Linked DNA regions of Homo sapiens: regions 2 and 3 are each linked to region 1. Evidence: fine-mapped expression QTL. A gene starts in region 1. Each other region holds a variant in brackets. All regions are shown on one strand. Distances are between the middles of the regions.

Region 1 (6,441 bases):
ACAAATTGAGAAAGAGAGGAACCAGCACCTCAGTTCTGGCAGCTTGCCAGGTAGCGTTTGCTTACCTCTGATCTTACTTAAAAACCAAGTGAGATATGTCACAACAAAAGTGTCTCTGTCATAGCAGTCTCAACACAATGAAGATGTTTTTCTAACCAAAGAACACAGTTAGTTGGAAGAGCTCTACAAAATTAGTACCAGGGAAGGCTTTAGTTAACACTTGCCCCAGACGCTGGGACCCAGAAAGGCTAAGTGATTTACCTAAGGTTACACAGCTGGCAGCAGTGTCTAGCCCAGAATCAAGAGCTAACTAGAATCTCCTAAGGTGAAATTGCCTATCACTGTGCCTCTTAACATGATTTCTAAAAGACAAGGTTCCCTGTTCCTCAGAACTATAACTTCATCACTATACCTTTTCCTAAAATCAGAACACTTATGACTGACTTTTCGTTGTTTTAATGAATTTAATCATTCATTAAATGGGACGGTGCCTATACATCAGTTACGAAAAAGAATTTCCATCTCCGATACATTTAATTACAGATATAAAATTTAACTAATTTTACCCATGTTTACAGTATGCTGCTTAAAATTTAATCATAAGTATATAAAAGCATAATTATCTCATACATAAATGAGGGTATATAAAAAGTACCTTTGCAGAAATATATAATTTATACTAAAACGTCACATATTCTGTTACAAAGACTGATTTATTTCAAAGAATGAAGAAACTAAATTACCACTACACTTGGTAACAAAGATCTGTGCCCATAAGATCTTTTCTTTAACATCTGTAAGAACTACATGAGAAAAACACAAACATTAACCAAGGTTAAAAGAAAAAACAAACAACTTGCAATATAAGCAGCTATAAACAGTGCCCTCCATGGTGAAAAATAAAGTCCACACATAAGTATCCTAGCAAAAATTTCACTACACACACACACACACACACACACACACACACACACACACGCCTAACAGATGGATTCTAAAAAACAGCTAAGCATTCCACAATCCAAATGCTCAAAAATTAATAATAAAGGTTAATTAACATTCTGGCACATGTGATATTGAGAACAACAGCAGTAATTTGGGGCAAAAGACCCTCTCTCTGCTCTCGTCCTTCATCTCATTCAACCTCTTTTTCTCAATTGTGAGCACACCCTTCTGCCTCCCCTACTCTGCAATCAAATCACAACCACCCAAAACCGAGGTGTCTGCTGCAGCCCAAAACATTTGACTGATAATATCCGGTTTGCCATTCCAGGAAATCCCAGAGTGGTTTTTAAGCCTCTGCCCACCGCTTGTAAAGAAAGGCAAGAGAGGAACTAATCGATACCAGCACCCCAGCTGTGACCTGGCACATGAAGAAATCAAGAAAATAAATCCCATCCATAATCTGTATAATTTAACACTTGGAAGAAAGCAACATCTGGGATCGACTCCAAGCAGGACAGTTTTGCCTGGATGGATCTGAGCTTCCTGCACTGAGTGTTAAAGCCGCTTAGGAGGCGATGCCCTCGGGTCCCTCACCAGTCCAGCAAAGGGACTATCTTTTTCCCTAGCAAGGGTTAATCTACCTCCCAAAAAAGAGAAGAGTGAGGAGAACGAAAATAACAACTACTAACATCTACTCCTTGCCAGTAAAGAGGCTGGCAAAGACTCCTCTGACACTTTGAAGGAGGGAAAGCTGGAAACCTTTCCCAAAGGTGGGTTCAGGTCAAACTATTGTCTTGGTAATTAGTCACAATCCAGAATGGAAGCTAACGTGAAATGTGGGAATGATTTTGTTGAATCCTACAGTCCTTTCAATGGACCCCAAAGTCCTATCCCCAGGCAAAGTTGGGAAAAAAAAAAACAAAAATCCCCTCGGACTACGACTCCCTGGGAAGGCTTTCCAGATGTTTTAAATTGCAGGAAAATGAATTTAGAACATAAGCAGATATCTACACATCACCTAAATCACTAGACCTGTCCTCAATTTTAAAACACACACACACACACACACACACACAAAGTACACCAGTCGGCAGAACAGGGCATTATAGGAAATAAAGAGTGTTAGTAAAATCCATAATGCTTTCTGTTAGACCTTCTGGGAGGTTATAATTGCATTTGGCCGGCTGCAGCCTTGTCGGAGAGCCTGGCTTCTTAATAGTCTCAACCCTAAAAGGAGTAACTGTCAAGGGGCGACCCAGCTGAAATCAAACAACAAAAACGGGAACTGTAACCCGCCTGAAATGGGAGGAGGAAAAGGAAGGGAGACTCCTGTATTCATCAGTCAACATTAATGTCCTTTGTTGTTCACCTTTACACAGAACAGCGAGAGCTATCCTGTTCCTTTTTCTCCGAACGCCAGTGTCAGGGTATGCTTTCCTAAAAGCTATCTCCCTGCCCCCAAGAACCAGGCTTTCCGATCCCCCTCCCCATTTATCACTCAGCAGCCCTGTACCGCCACACCGCCCCCACTGCGCTCACCCGGGGTCGAGAGGGTGGCCAGAAGTAAAAACACTGCTGAAATACCCGTTCTTCTCCAAAGACCAAAGAACCGAGCGGCGCAGATGTTGAAATTTACCAATGCCCCCGCCCCGCAACATACACACCCCATAAATCCGGGATCGCAGAGAGGGAGGAGGGTCAGAGAGGGCTCAGCTTGTCAGAGCGGCTCTCTCCAGGACCCTGCCACATTCCACACTCCGGGAATGTCGATCCGAGCCAGAGGGAAGGGTTTGCGCCTCCCTACTGTTTTGGGGGTGTTCTCTCTGCCCGAGTGTTGTTGTCTCCCTCTCCACCCAGAGGAACCGTTGCAGCTCCCTGTCGCTTTGGGGAAGAAGGGTAAGGAAGGAGAGAAACCCCATTCGCCTCCTCTTCCAACTTGACACACACACACACACACACACACACGCCCAGTCGCCACTCCAAACTCCGCAGGCAGAGCCCGAAGCTAGCGGGCCGGCCGCGCGCTCCCCCAAGCTGTCCCGGCGCTTCGGGAACCAGTGCGGGGCGCGCCGAGCAGGCGGTGCGGGGCGAGAGCCTGGTGCGCAGCCCTCTGCCTGGAGCTGGCTCGGCAAAGCCCCGTACCAGCTGCGCGATGCCAGGATTAGGCATTTTCAACCGGGCGGAGCGAGAGGGGCGCGGGGGCAAGGACGAGAAATGCGCACTCGCTCGGGCCAGAGCAGAATAAAAGTTCGCCCCGCGGAGACTCACCCACGCCGTATTTCTCGTGCTCCGTAGGTATCCACATGGCTAAAGGGGCTCCGGGGTCTTCAGGCTTTGTAATCCCCGCGCCCCTTCTCCGGCTCACAACAATGCACAGTCCCCGAGCAGCGCTGCAGTGCCGGAGCCCAGCGGCTTCGCGCGGGCTGCGGGCGCTGGGCAGGATCTGCGCTGGAGGCTCCCGAGCCCAGCGTTGACACTGCGCCGCCCGCAGCTCTCCCGGCGGCGGCTGCTCACAGTCCTCCGACGCGCTCCCGGGTACCCGGCGGCGCAGTCATTGTTCTGATTCACTGAACTAAGCGAACACGCCGGGGCACTCTCCGGCGCACCCCCGCCCGCCAGCGCCTAGTCCAGCCCTCCCGTCCCAGGGCCCCGCAGCACGCTGGGAATTGTAGTTCTTGGCCTCCCCATCCCGGAAGTGGGCGCGGCAAATGTGGTTCGGGGCGGGGATTCAGTTTTACTGATTGCGTCCTATTGGTCCAGAGCGCGGCGTAGGTGTGGAGAAAACATTACGTCGACGGGGAGTTCGCCTCCAGTAGCGTTTCTACTGGTGCCACCCCGCCTCCGACCCGCCCTGCGGCCCTCCCTTTTCTTTTCTGCCGGGTAATGGCTGCTTCCAAGACCCAGGGGGCTGTCGCCCGAATGCAGGAAGACCGTGATGGGAGCTGCAGCACAGTCGGGGGTGTAGGTTATGGGGGTGAGTACGGTGCCCCGGAGGCGCGGCTGATGTGTCTTCCTTTCTCTATGACCGGGTGTGCAACGGACCTCTGGTCTGACCCTAGGAGCCCTTCAGCTCTGGGGCCACCTGGGTTCGACTGGGCCCCACGGGTGGTGGCCCAGCGGGATGGGTTGGAGCCGGTGGCGGCTACTTGGTTGGGGCTGCCCGGGGATGGCGGAGAAAATGCCATGGGATGGCGGAGAAAATGCCATGGAATGGCCTTCCCCTCCGCCGGGGAAGCTCCCTGAGCGTTTGTCTTCTGGTTTGGAGCTCCCAGCTTTGAGCTAGCTGCTGAGTGGGTTTGGTTCAGATCTGGTTCGCGCGCGTGTGTTTATAATTTTGGGATTAGCAGCTCTTTCTCCTCACCAGTACACTGCCTTGGTTTGCTTGGTTTGACCTCGCAGGTGTGTTTTATTTAGCTTCCGGAGTATTTCCAGTCGCAGACTGGTGGTCACTGCTCTCCACTCTACAGATTTGCCCAGTTTGTGGCTGAGGTGACCTCTGAAGGGAAAGTGTGTGTATCTCACAACCTCCCTGTAGATGGTTAACTGCTCTGGGTGTTCTTCAGATTTGTATGTGGAGCCTGAGAGATCTTCCCAGTCTCTGGGTCCTTAGAGAAAGAAAAGGAAAGTGATAGATAATTTGCACTCGTGGCTTCAAAGAACATTTGAAAAGAGTTTTGAAAACCATCACAACTTTGGCTGTACCTGACTTTCAGGTTGTCCTCTGATCCACTGTAGGAATAAAAAACCAAATTTTGAAAGCTGCAGGTGGATTGTGTTTAGGACTCTTTTACCTTTAGTCTATCCCTCCCCCATTCCCCCCACCCCATTTTTGTCTTGATGTGTAATTTAGCACAAGTTGTCTTTTTCTGATGAACATGGTTTGGGGCTTAAATATAGTTCTCAGACTGTTGCGACTTTGTTTTTCGATTTATTTGTTTTTGCTTTCACAGTTAAATTGATATCATCTTAAGTATTTACCTCAGCGGCACAGAGTTGAAGTGCAGTTTTTTCCCACTTCCCAACAGTGGAACTCCCTACTCTGAAATTATTTTAGTACCTCTACCAAACAAATCTTTGGTAGTCTCCTGAGTTAAATATTGAATTTAACACCCTAATGGTTTATTTTTGGGTTGGTTATATATTGGGCTATCTGATGGTAACAGACTATTACGGTTTCCTAGATTTTCAAAGTTCCAGAGGGCTACCAGTTTAAGATCTAAACTGGTGAATTTATCTCACAGTCTAACTTATTTTAAAAAATGGCCGGGCACGGTGGCTCACCCCTGTAATACCAGCACTTTGGGAGGCCGAGGCGAGTGGATCACAAGGTCAGGAGTTCGAGACCAGCCTGGCCAATATGGTGAAACCCCGTCTCTACTAAAAATACAAAAATTAGCCGGGCGTGGTGGCGGATGCCTGTAGTCCCAGCTACTCGGGAGGCCGAGGCAGGAGAATCCCTTGAGCCCGGGAGGCGGAGGTTGTGGTGAGCCATGATCCACCACTGCACTCCAGCCTGGGAGGCAGAGCAAGACTCTGTATCAAAAACAAAACAAAAAAAAAGGATATGCCTTTCAAAAATGTAAAATATTTAAAAATATTTATTTTTAAATTTTACAAGTTTAAAAGTTTTTAAAAGCACTTCAAACCATTCAGAAGTGTATGAAGTAAAAAAAATGAAAATTCCCTCACCTCACAGCACCACTCCCCGAGTATTAAGTGATAAGAGTTTGGTACATATTCTTTCCAACATATTCTTCTTCTTCTTTTTTTTTTTTTAATCCTACAATCCGTATTCTGTTAAACCACCATATTCTTATATGACACACGTCTGTATGATTTGATTTTTTTTTTTTTTTTTTTTTTTTGAGACGGAGTCTCGCTTTGTCAACCAGGCTGGAGTGCAGTGGCGCGATCTCGGCTCACTGCAAGCTCCGCCTCCCAGGTTCACGCCATTCTCCTGCCTCAGCCTCCCGAGTAACTGGGACTACAGGCGCCAGCCAACAAGCCCGGCTAGTTTTTTGTATTTTTAGTAGAGACGGGGTTTCACCGTGTTAGCCAGGAGGTCTCGATCTGCTGACCTCGTGATCCGCCCGTCTCGGCCTCCCAAAGTGCTGGGATTACAGGCGTAAGCCACCGCGCCCGGCCTATGATTTGATTTTTATAATAAAAAGGGATAAATCTATATAAACTGAAAGATCTGCAACCTTCTTTTTTCTTTCAGCAGTCTATCATAGAAACCCTTCCACGTCAGTACATTTGTTTCCTTTTTTTTTAAGGACTGTGCCCATCATATTCCAAAATATGATTGTGCCATTCTTTATCCATTCCCTTATAAATGAACATATAGTGTGACTTTAGTTTTTCAGTAATGTTGCAATGAACAACTTTATGTACATATATTCTTGCCCACTGGTTGTATATTTTGGGAGAAAATTGCTGGATCAAAGGTTATGCAAGTTTAAAATTTTGACAGATGCCAGACTTTCCTCTTAAAAT
Region 2 (6,441 bases), 61 kb before region 1:
CTCAAATGTTAATGGGGGCCTGGCAGGTAATGTCACTGGTGCAAATGTCTGTTGGACAATAAATGACAATGAACAGCCTGCCTCAGGGTCCAGAGGACATGAGAGTGTTTTGGAAACTACACTGAACTGGGGACACTTCCACTTACAGGGGACAGCAGAGTTGCCAGATTGCAATTGGGGCCAGTGCTACTAAATGCTCCATTTGTTCAAGAGAGGCCAGAAATCCACAGTTTTAAAATGTAACATCCCCCCACTCATTGCAATTCTTAACTACTTGCAACTAATTCAAATTTAAGGCACCTAGTAATTTAACTCTATGAAGAGCAAATACACTGAGTCTAGGAGCCAGATGGGAGAGGGAGAAACAGGTTCTATGTGTTCTACATGCATTAACTCATGTGGTCCTCACAATGTCCCTGTGAGGTAGGTACTATTATTAAGCCCCTTTTGCAGATGAAGAAACTGTGGCATAGAGAGAAAAAATAACTCAGGCAAGGTCACATAGCTAGAAAGTGGGGCTGGTGGGATGTCAAACCTGGCAGAGTATAGGGCCACAGACAACATTGCACACCTTTTCTAGGATCATTATTGAAGAGTTTTAGCTCTGAATTTTCACTATTGTATGTTAGGCTTGTAAGGCAGTCATGGAAATTTTACAGGTAGAGAAAATGTGACCCAGGAAACTCAAGACATGTTGACTGTCTAACCCATGCAGAAGAGCCAAGAATTCAACTGAAGCCTTACTCCTTTGCCTTTCAACTCAGCAGGTACAACACTGTCTCAGGAAAGCTCATCACTAATGCATTTCTAATGAATGGCCTTGCTGGGCTTTTGTATTAGTATTATTTACTATTTTTTAAATTAAACATTTTAGTCCTTGAATAGGTTTAGAAAATAATATAATGATCCCCAGAGTGCCTACCACTCATTTTTTAAAATTAAATGTTACAATAGAAAGCTCACATGTATTCTTTACCACTACAGAACTAAACAGGATCCTGAATTTTGTGTATATCATTCACATACATGTGCAAGTTTTTACACTGCTACTTCACATGCATACATAGTATCTAGTATTGCTTTGCATGCTTTTAAACCTGAAGTAGGTGGAAACATAAGGCATATACCCTTCTGCAACTTGCTTGTTTCCTTTAATGCATTTGACATTTATTTTTACTATTGCATAGCACAGGATATTTATCTATTTGTTTTTACTAGACATTAGGTTGTACCTGGAAACAAAGAACTTTGTACATGTGTCTTTTTATGAATAAGTGTGAGGCTTTCTCTAAGGGTGGATAAGTGGGGGTGACTAAAATAATTTTATTATAATTATGTAAAATGCTTACACTGGGGGAAGTGGGTGAGTTAGGTAAGGGACTCTTTCTATGATTTTTGCAACTTTTCTGTAATTCTAAAATTAGTTCAAAACCAAAAGGTTAAAAAAAAAAGGAAAAGAACATCTCCTCTGGGCCACTCCAAGCAATTCACCATAGGATCACAATGCCTTGGGCTGAATCCTAGACACAGACGAGACCTCCACAGCAGTGGAAACAGGAAAAGGCTAGCTCCAGGGCCCTCCATCCCAGAAATGCCACAAAACTGCCATATGAAACTGGTTGTTTAAAATGCCTCAAATAGCTGAGCTTATATACGGTCAAGTATGATTAACTAAAACCAAAGCAATTCTTTGAATATTTATAAACCAAGACAAGCAGACGTCATTTAAATTGAAAAGGCAACAAAGCTCCATTAGTGAAAAAGTCTCTCAAGCTACAACTCTCTATCAAATACATGAAATGACTTGTCTTTTACCTAGGTTTAAATTGTATCTGATATATTTGTTTAATTCTATGCATTTGGGGGCACATCTAAAAGTTCGCGGCTCTCCAACTATAAGGAATGGGAGGGCCTCTTGGAATTCAAGCATCTATTCTTTGTCTTCCTGTTCTTTCCAACCAGTCAGATGCCCTGTGCCAGGAGAAAAATGTGTTTATATAAAGTCTCCTGAGAGTGGGACTAAGAAGAGCTACATGGGCCAAACCCAACCCCAGCCATCTCCTCTAGGAAGCCTGCCAGGGCTAACCTCATCTGAACCACATCATTCATCTCCTCCTCTTTCCCTTTAGACTTACACATTCCCTTTGGTCTCAATCACAGCACTTGCAGATGTTTTGATTCGGATCATCTGTAAGTTCTTGTTACATTTTCTCTTCCTACACGGATTGTAAACTTTTCAAGGCATTATGTCAATCCATCAACAAGTGTGACTGCCAGAATATAGCAGAAAGAAGCTGAAGTGGAAAGAGTATGGGGCTTGGTAATATCTCTGCAATCACAATTTAGGGATGCTACAATCTTTTGGGGGACTCAGTTTCCTTGGCATTCTTCAGTTTCTAAGATACTTTCCTCCCATTAAATTCTACTGGAAGAATCCCTTCATTTCACCTTCCTCTAGTGACAGTATTACATACAAGACACATGGACACAAGAGACATAATCCTTGCCAGTAAGAACCATCTCAGTATTTTATTTTCTTTTTTTGGCACCTCTCACAATATAAGTAGTCCACTATGAACTAAGCACTATTCAGTAAATGTTGGTTAAAGTAGCAAAGTGATAAGCCAGTGGCTGGGGAATAAACAGACTCAGCAGCTTCTTTATCTGAAGTGTGTGTTCTCTATCTAGCCTTCTCCATCATGGCCCATACTCGGGAACAGTTTGACATTTTAGCACCATATGGCTGAGTGAGGATCCAAAGGCCACACAAAAAATTGCCAGCCCACTTGGCATTTCCTACATTTGCCCAGGCAGATGGCACTAGGCAT[C/T]CAGCTCACAGCTGCAACCTAGGTCAGATCTAGGAGGACCAGGGTATCTCCAGGATGCCAGGTCATCAAGGACCCAGGGCAGTGGCAACAGAGCTTTGCAGGTCAGCACCTCAATGCCAAAGCTAATAATCTAACACTCATTTACCCAGATTTCTGGCACAGCTGAGAAAATATCCTAGTAGTTTTTGCAAACATCTTTCTATCAGAGGTATCCTGTAACTACACTCTGCACACCAAAATACCACATCTCTAAAGCACACTGTGGTATGCACACTCTCCTTGGGATGCTTGGGAACATCAGTCCTACCAGGACTACTGACGCAAAGCGAGCAGAGAGGTGTGATAAGAGGAATCTCATCCCAGAATATGCCTGGATTTCATCATTAGGAATTTTTGTTCCACTGGGTTATGAAACACTCTTGCTTGTTAGAATTTTTTAAAGTACTACACTTAAGCTATAAATGCAGAAATTTTCCGGTGCTTCTGTAAGAGCACTCCCTATATGATGAAACGATATCTATTAATATGTTGTAAAAAGGAGGAAAGTTGCAGGTGGTTCCAAGGCAGGGACCGGACACCTTAGGGAGGTATAAAGGCAGCAGGTGCTAGAGAGGTTAGCAAGCATCAGGCAAGCACCACAGAAAGAAAAAGCAAATGTGAATCAAAGACAATTTGCCTCAAGAACTGGAATGAGGATATTTTATAGGCATAAGTGTTCAGACTTAGGCTGAGATCCATGAACCACATCCCTAAGCAAAGCTTTGTTGTAACTTGCCACGTCTCAGTTCTCCAGACCCTAAAATCTCTCTTAAACAACATAGGAACATACACATACTAATAAACTCCCATATGCTAGGCCTAAGATTGGTTTGGCTCACATAAAACTGAGGCACATGCAGGCATATGTTGTTTGGGAAAAGGGCCGCGGGGCTCGCAGTAATGCAATATTATATATTCAGAGATACAACAGAATTCTTCCCAGTTTACAGTGCTAAAGCTGGCTATTCAGAGGATGAGAAATTCCAAACGGACATACCATTTCTTGTGTAATAACAGTTAATCTGTATACAAACCTAACAGGATCATTAAGCAGGATTTTTATATTTCCTTTAACGCACACCAAATTTCAACCTCCCTCTAGTAAGCCTTGCATTCCACTAGACATACATGCACATGAGGGATGATTCTGGAAACATGATTTGCATGGAAATCTTTTGTCATCTGACTTCACCTCTAAAGTCCAAGTCACAGCATCCAAGTCACAGAACTTAGTTACTTGGAAGAAAAAAAAAAATGGGGCACTGGGTGGGTCAAGGAGGGTGTGAGAGCAAGTATGTAAAAATATATTTATAACAATCTATTATTCAATATCATCTAACTTCGCTTAAACTGCGTACTATATTAGAATGTGCTTATATGTTTGTTTGTGATATAGAAAATGAGAGAAATACACTGGAAGAGATAATATTCTAACAGGATAAAATACCTCCCAAAGCCAGAAGTCCACATAACGAAGCCAAGGATCCAACATCTAAAATCACAACATGGCAGTATTCATCAAACACTTAGCACAAAGATTGGTTTTTGTAGCAAGAACCTGAGGTGACTTTACAGAGGAACTCACCTTTGAAAAGTGGCTGGGTCTTAAATGCTTTGCCAGAAAGACTTCATCGAATCAGCCTTTTTCTAAGGTTGGCATGGGAGGAGTTTCAAAGTCTCCAAGCAAAAGCTACAGAAGTCCCCACAGCATGGTCATCCTAGAAGAGGCTTTCCAAGGCTTTCTTTAACAAGTTGGCAAAACTTGATCCCCTCCTTCCTGGTCACTGTGATTTCAGAAGTGTTAAATAAAATAGAGGAATTTCAAAGCCCCAAAAGCTGCTTTGTTGCCAGTATAACTGAAAGAACTTTGAAGCCAGGTGCAGTGGCTCATGCCTGTAATCCCAGCATTTTGGGAGGCTGAGGCAGGCAGATCCTTTGAGGTCAGGAGTTTGAGACCAGCCTAGGCAATGTGGCGAAACCTCATCTCTACAAAAACTATAAAAATTAGCTGGGTGTGGTGGCGTGCACCTATAGTCCCAGCTACTCAGGAGGCTGAGGCAGGAGGATCACCTGAGTCTGGGGAGGTTAAGGATGCAGTGAGCCCTGATGGCACCACTGCACTTTTGCCTGGGCAACAGTGTAAGACCTTGTCTCAAAAAAGTACTTTGGCAGAGGAAGAACATTTTACAGAGATCTAGGAGGCTTCGATATCTCTTCATCCCATCTAATTTCTTCATTAAGTTTGAAATTAAGAATTTGTAATAATTTAGACGAGTGTAACAGTATCCAAAATTTGATTATATTTTCTCTAAAGAAAGGATATGCTAGGGAAACCAGTAATGCAAATAAAAATGTTTTAAATATTTAAGAGAAGACACTTTCTTAAAAGCCCCAAAGCACCTTATAAATACATCTACCTACAAATGATATATAACTATCATGTATTTATTTTTTAAAGCAGGACTCCTAGTAATATATACTAGGGAACACTTTGTTATATTAATCCAGATATTAAAATTATTTGATGGTAATACAGTTCTTATATAATAATGTTTATAGATATTGTATTGTACCTAATTTAGATTACCTTCAATCTGAATTCAGCATTGTCATTAGAAATATACACAGGTGAACAGTAAATTATTGGGTTTTTAGAGACTACAACCCACGTAAGTCTAATTAGTCACTAAAACTATCTTTTCTAAATGGCAAGTAAAATATGTTTTGGGCGTTTTCAAGGAGATCCAAACCTAGGTTCTACTAGTACCAGAATAGACAATTTTTTAGTCTCTTAGAACCACATTTTAAGCACAGACATTTATATCAGTGCATGTCTACCACCTTTAGCTCTGTCCTGGATCCACCTGACCTGTAACATTTCCCTTTGGGCTTAACAGAGTCAACATTCTTACAGTTAACAGATATTTTGCCTAAAAATATTTTATTTTGAAATTGTTTTCAGCCTTTGCCCAATACCTCAAAATACCCTCAAAGGTATTTCCTATAATTGAAAAGTTTGCCCACTTTCCTGTGTTCAGTATAAAATCTAGAAATCCTGCATCAGAAGACCTGGCCACAACCATCACAAAAATAAGGCGGTTATCTGAGAGGTAAGCTCTGAGTCACAAAACCTCCGTACTGAATTCAAGTAATTGAAGACACGAGTGAAGAATCCATCCTTAACTACACAGGAACAATTCCCAGGAGCAAACGTAGATTTTTTTTTTTTTTTTTTTTTTTTTTTTTTGATAAAGAGAAGCCACCACCAGGAGGAGGCTTGAAAGCTTGAATTTAATTACTTCTCCATCTCCTCATTATTCCACCCAACTCCCTACTTCCCCATCTCATTTCACAGCCTCCACCAGCTCTCCCCTCAGGCCTCCTATCACCCCTCTGCTCAAGCACACATGCTCTCTCCCTCTCCTCCACACTCCCACTGCTTGATGTTCTCTGCTTTCTGTGTCTTGCTTTCACAGCATCCAGCTTTCTAGTAAATTGTCGCTGAATCAACATCTTCCATTGGAAGTCTGTGTAGACGGCATTGTCCTGGAAAGACAGAAAAGCTAAAGAAAGC
Region 3 (6,441 bases), 210 kb before region 1:
TGGCACAAAACATTTACATTAGGAAAAGAGAAACCAAAGGTCTGACATGGCCAAGGTAGCTTCACTCCTAGTATCAAAAATCTAATACCTCTGAGTTAAACTTAATATTTGTTTCTAATGGCACTGACTACCATTCCAGTGTCCAGGGAAACATTTAGATAATTTTCTCTTTCCCAGTTACTCAGAACACTAGGAGGAAAGGAGTTTACTTATAGAGTTTACAACACACAGATTTTCAAACCAACAAAGTCTGTCCCCAAAACAGACATTTGAAACCTCGAACACAGGTAAAAATAGCTAGATAAGGCAGAATCCAGAGGAAATTCAACTTTGTTCCCCACTAGTAGCTATATAAAAGGAAAAGTGTTTGTGTTCTAGTTCAGCTAATGGACAACACTCACACTGTCATTATTTTTATAACTCTTATATCGGGTATTTGGAATGCAGTGGTTTGAGCATTTCAAATAGTTTCTTTTTCCATGTTAGTGCCATGCCCAATGTTACTTTAAGTGAAATAATACTTGGATTTTGAATTCTTTCCAACATTTACAAAAAAAAAAGAAAATTTAAAAAGGAGATCTGCATTTCTTTGCACTTCCCTAGCACAGAGCCCTCGAGGTCGGTTATCTTGACTTTGTTATTTACAAAACCTATGCTCCGCCAATTCACCTAAGGTTTCTTGTGGATTTTCATAGTGAGTTCTAAAGCTACCAGCTACAGGAGGGTTTAATCAGAGAAGTCCAACATCAAAGGGTTTTCACTAGTGACTTTGTCAGATTTTCTTGCCTCAGTGAAATATCCTATTGCATTTCAGATGTAACAGACAATAAACACTATCATTCTGCCAGTGTCCCTCACTAATTTGGATTTTTTCCTCGACAGGCTGTTTTAAATCGTTTTGTCAGGATAAGCACACGTTTGTATTTTGAATTAATCCCTTCAAATGATTAAGCTGTTCTACAAATTTCTTTAAAAATAAAAGAAGAAATAGCATGGGGTCTTCCCTAATATTTCACCACCCCCAGACTTCCACAGTTACAGTGGGGTTCAGAGTGACAGCACCATATTCATACCAGAACCCCAGCTCAGCCATTTTCCCATTACTTGATGTGGGGTGAGTACTTCACTCTCTGTGCCTTATTTTTCTCATCTGTAAGCTGGATGTGATCATCATTATTATTTCTTTGAGTAGTAATAAGGATTAAAGAAGATACTGCATCAAAGAGTACTTACCATGGGATTTGCCACATAAGTTCCCAATGTGATTACTTATAGTAAGTAAATAAATATATACTACGTATCTGCAAAACACAGATCCTTTTTCCCCTCAAGAAACATTCTTTTCTCTAGTATATTTAGAATATTCTCATTGATACTAGCTAAGAAGTCTGTCATTTACAGTATACTTGAATTACTTACAGAATTTGAATTTGATAAAATACCAAAGCCACCAAAATTGTCTTGAATTTTATTTTTCCCTGGAAATTAAAAATATTCAGGAGGTTCAACAATAGGTCCATGTAAACCATCCTATTTGGTTAGATGCCAGAAAAATAATCTTTTATATTCCTGTGGTATTGAAAAATAACTTACAAAACCCATGCTCAGTGGACACAGAGATTGTAACAAGACTGTCTTGTTAATATCTATATCCCCAAGGAGTCCTGGAGACTTGCAGAAGGTGCTATATTAGTTAATGCTTACTCATGTTCATGTATTTCTTAAAACAATTCTTTACCCGAAAAATCGTGTCATTAAAAAGCTACTTAACCACATAGAGTTGTTTCCACATGGTTCCCCAGTCTCTTAATGTTGATGTCATTTCTGTGATAACAGAGTCTTCAGTGGGAATAACCATTTCAAATTGTCTGTGAAATTAAAAAAGAAAAAGTATATATGTAAATACCATAGACAACAATTTTGTTTTAAATACTCTAAAAGATAACTAGAAAAGAAAGCTGCCTAGCTATTGTTCGTTCTACAGACAGTAACCAGGATCTGGTTATAAGTTAATGTGAGGAATGCTACATGGGTTGTGGTAGGACAATACCAGAACAACCAGCCACTTCAACCAGATCAAGTTTGAGCAGCGTGGTGAAGAAGGAACAGCATCAGAAGGGTTGCACTCCAGTACCAGTTCACGACTAGGCAGCAACTCATTTAACCTAAGGCCAAAAGCCTTCATCTGTAACATGAGGTCACTGGGCTACATAAACTCTGAGGTGACTTTTGCCTTCCAAGGGCTATGACTATAGGACTCAAAGAGAGTAAAAGGAACACCATTCAATCACCAGGACATGATGGCTGTGGGCATCCAAACTAACTCAGTGTTATAAGTAACTAGACACTGAGATACTAATTGAACACTCTCTTGATCTCGGTAACACTTAATTTTTATTATTTGCAAACTAGGACCATGAGAAATGATTAGTATTCTAAGTAATGTTATCATACAGCATAGAACTTATGGCTTATGACATCACCGATATTTGAATATTCGTTCCAAAATGTTCCTCTTTCTGATTAGAGTAACGTAGTCTTCTCATTTCTTCTCTAAAAGTCAGAAACTATCCTTGGAAAATATTTATATCAATATCTAGTAGGGTGTGTATGGTGGTCCTGAAGTTGAGAATATGCATGAGGAGATGGGGGAAATAAAAGAGAAGTTTTGTGTTTTTTTTTTTTGAGAACAGAGTCTTGCTCTGTCGCCCAGGCTGGAGTGCAGTGGCGCGATCTCGGCTCACTGCAAGCTCCACCTCCCAGGTTCATGCCATTCTCCTGCCTTGGCCTCCCGAGTAGCTGGGACTACAGGTGCCTGCAACCAC[G/A]CCCGGCTAATTTTTTGTATTTTTAGTAGAGACAGGGTTTTACCGTGTTAGCCAGGATGGTCTCAATATCCTGACCTTGTGATCTGCCTGCCTCAGCCTCCCAAAGTGCTGGGATTACCAGTGTGAGCCACCGCGCCTGGCTGAGAAGATTTAATTTGTCCTCTGTATCCTACCTTTGGCATATAATAATCTTCATCTCCAGTTTCTTTTTTCAAATTCTTTCTTTGTGTGTGTGTGTGTGTGTGTGTGTGTGTGTGTGTGTGTGTGTGTATGTGCAGGTGAAAGTGGTTTAGTGGCTATTACTACCACTGCTTCCCAAAGAATGCTACTGATATATTGATTGAGACTATTTTCTTTATTTCAGTATATTTTTCTCAAGAAAACGTCTAATACATAGAAAGTAATGACATATTAGACACAGAACCATGTTGTCTAATGATCAAGGGGAAATTACTTCTTAGCATGAGACTAATAACTGTTCTGTGATTCCTTTTTCATGTTATGTCCAAAGTGTATATAATTGTCTTTTGTAAAATCTTCTTGTCAGACATATGGAAACTAAAATCTTGCCTTGATTTTTTTCCCAACAGAGTTTCATCTCCTCATTTCGCAGTGCTGCTAAAATACTTGCCCTATGAATATTTTCCTTCTTTCTAGAGCTTAAACACAGCTGAAAATGTAAAACTGGGATTTTAAACTAGAAATAAAAGTAAACAGTAATATATAAACTGTGACAGACACAGAACCTTTTATTAAGTCTGTATATGACATTTTTAAATGGTGGTACATTTATTTTGCTTTTGAAGCAGCGTTTGCAATTTAAATGATGAATATTTGGAGATGGAGATTATAAAATGATCCTATACAAGGTCAAGGAGGAAACACTGAATTTCCAGGGAAACCTGACATACTACTTAACATTTAAAAAGTGACATGACCTCAGTAGGAATTAAACAATACAGAAGTGGCCTCCCTGTCCATAAACTATAATTTAATTGACCTCCAACAGTCCTACATTGATCTGAAGACACAAGAAAGAACATACACGCAATTCAGTCTGTGAGAAGTTGATTGGGGGTTGTCCAAGCAAAATTTAAATTTTTAAGCATAAAATTGCCATTTTAGGCAAGGTGACTGTTTTCTATTAATTATTCCAAACCCAAAATCAGTGTTCAAATAGTCTGTCGTAAGTAGTTACCTCTGAAATTATATTTTGTTCAATTATTCTAGGATGGACTTTTCCATTATTTCATCCTAGTGGGCCATAAATCCACTTAAAATAAGACAGGTAATACCAAAACCCCAAAGATGTTCCTCTCTGGGAAAGCAATTACCTGGCAATACATGCTCTCAAATGTTTTCAGGCCAAAGTTTTTCTTCCAGTAACAGCCCTAGACCTAGGGTCTGAGTCAATTCCAATAAGTCTTTTACAGAAACTAATGTTGGGCTTTTCTGTTCTTCTGCTGCACAATGTCCATCATACCTAGTGTCAGGTGGAGACCCCATAAGAAAGTCTTAAACTTACATGACCAAATTTTTAGGTACTTTACCCACATTTAAACTTCCTGGGGCTCATGGAAGGGGATCAGATATACACCAGTTACTAACCAGGATTTAAAAAAAGGACGTACTTATTTAAAAACCATATCCTACCCCAACTCACTTTGAGGGATAGACTTTGATTAAGTGGAGAGATGCTTGACATCATCTTTGCTAGCACAGCATTCTCTCTTTTCTCTTCCTTGGTCAGAGCATATGATGCCCTTTGCACTGCAGAGTTGAGGGAGGTCAGGGTTGGGCTTGGGACAAAGGCAGCAAAGAGGACTGGTTGCACAGGCTTGCTCAAAAGGACACTTTAAGAAACAGGGGTAGCCCATGGTGTTTTCACATTGCCAAGCCCAGATCACTAGCACAGAAGGATCAGAACAAAGAGTAAGCATATGGCTGGAGTGTATTCTGAAGTATCCTCTGGTTTACTGGAGGGAGGCTGAATGGTATCACATCTAGCTGGGTAGGAAAGTTTCAAAAGGACCAACAACTTGGCTTGATGCTTCTGGTGGATTATAGCTGCACACTTCCAAAGGACACACATTTCTTAAAAGATCAGTAGTAGTAGTGGTAATTATTAGAATTAGAATTATGCTTTTAATCTATTATTCAATAATTACTATTACTGAGTGCTACTACTAACATGCTTAAAGCAGCTCACATATATAAGACATGTAGAGTAATGGTCTCTGAGATTCTTTAAGTTTTACCCATATAGGGAACTCTCAAAGTATTTATACCATAGACTCTTAGCCACATGCATAGGCTGTTTCCCTGAACTGAAATTTAATATCATATCTTTATTGAGGAGGAAATTATTTGAATAGCCTCGTTGGAACTTTTATCTTAAGACTCAAGTTGGAAAATGCCATTACTATGCTTTAAGAATTCAAATAATAAATTGCTATTTATCACTATTTGAGAAAAAATATAATTTCTATGGCTGAATCTGTATTCTGTTGTCCTAAGATGAAAATTATGCAATGATCATGTGAATAGTCCTTGTGACACTGACACCAAATGTTTGTGTCTAAATCCATGGCCCCTTATGATGAATGATCTGCTTATGCTAACTATTTACACAGGCAAGTTCTTCTGTTTTATCCTGCTGTACCTTATTGGAATTATGTTAAAGTGACTGCCACTTCAAATCCTTTTGGAAATAAGACTAGAAATTTTTTTAATGTATTAGAAATACTAGGTGATCAATGAGCTCAATCAAACAAAGTATCATATAAATGACATTCTCTAAAATAGAATAATGGCTTTGTGAAGTGGTCACACAAGAATATGTTATTATGCCCATTTAGAGAAAGACACACTATGCATCTTAGAATCAGTGGTGAACCTAGGAAATTCCTGGGGTTTGAGATAATATGACAGCATTTAATGGGTCTGACTGACATGCTTCCCTAAGTAGCAAGAAACCAAAAAGAACCAACTCCTTCTGCTCAAGCATAGGCTGATTCCCTGATTTGTGGACACTGAGAGACCTCCAGTCTCTCAGATCCTCTTGTCCAGCACACACAGATGGGGTTCTTTAATTTTCTCCACCAACGGTCTTAATGCAATATATCTTTAACAAAGAACACAGACAATGGTATGATCTTCTACAGTTCATTTTTCAAGACAATTACTATGCCTTTCAAATTCCAAAAGAAGCAAAGGCTCTGTGAAAATCCTCCAACTACTAATAAAACTCATTTCTTACCCTTTGTTCTTTACACAGGCATTTTTCAAGTGAACGTAGCTGGAAGGAAATATACCCTGGAAAAGAAAACATGAAGGTTACGATGCCGGCTGTTAAGGCAGGGTTGGTTTCACAAGTCATTTGTATAAAACACAGCCATACAACCATGACAACATCAGGAATAGGGAAAAGCAACATCTCTACCACATTCTCTTGGATGAAATCTACTGTGGCTTAAGATCCATCCTTTCATTTTCTACCATTAACTACTTTAAAAATTTAGAGACATTCTAAACAAATATGATCAAAAAAATTAAATCTTACTCAGAAAACATAATGTTTATTAAACAGAAAATAAGAAAATTTCAGGAATTCTAT

Alleles and levels. Positions count from the first base shown, and alleles are read on the strand shown. Sizes are in standard deviations (SD) of each study's normalised expression. Not every link is listed here.
In carriers of allele A in region 3, the expression in testis of the gene that starts at base 3,511 in region 1 tends to be lower than with G alone (small effect, 0.26 SD a copy in GTEx).

Evidence for each region. PIP is the estimated chance that this variant, and not a neighbour inherited with it, causes the effect.
Region 2: its variant is the best candidate, but not a certain one, in a credible set for the expression of DOCK4 in cerebellar hemisphere (GTEx, PIP 0.90).
Region 3: its variant is the best candidate, but not a certain one, in a credible set for the expression of DOCK4 in testis (GTEx, PIP 0.83).

Annotation. Positions count from the first base shown.
Region 1 is chr7:112,202,889-112,209,329 of GRCh38, forward strand. It overlaps DOCK4 (dedicator of cytokinesis 4), which reads right to left and starts at 3,511. Exons shown (of 53, transcript NM_001363540.2): 1 at 3,214-3,511. The coding sequence starts at 3,250. ZNF277 (zinc finger protein 277) reads left to right here and starts at 3,807. Exons shown (of 12, transcript NM_021994.3): 1 at 3,807-3,919. The coding sequence starts at 3,829. RefSeq lists a silencer at 3,383-3,732 and an enhancer at 3,903-4,022.
Region 2 is chr7:112,141,712-112,148,152 of GRCh38, forward strand. The region is part of intron 1 of DOCK4 (dedicator of cytokinesis 4); the gene reads right to left. Among named protein-coding and RNA genes, the nearest start is that of DOCK4, 61 kb to the right of the region's middle. The variant C/T (reference allele first, on the strand shown) is at 2,829.
Region 3 is chr7:111,992,364-111,998,804 of GRCh38, forward strand. It overlaps DOCK4 (dedicator of cytokinesis 4), which reads right to left. Exons shown (of 53, transcript NM_001363540.2): 4 at 6,085-6,140; 5 at 1,772-1,868. Among named protein-coding and RNA genes, the nearest start is that of DOCK4-AS1, 190 kb to the left of the region's middle. The variant G/A (reference allele first, on the strand shown) is at 2,826.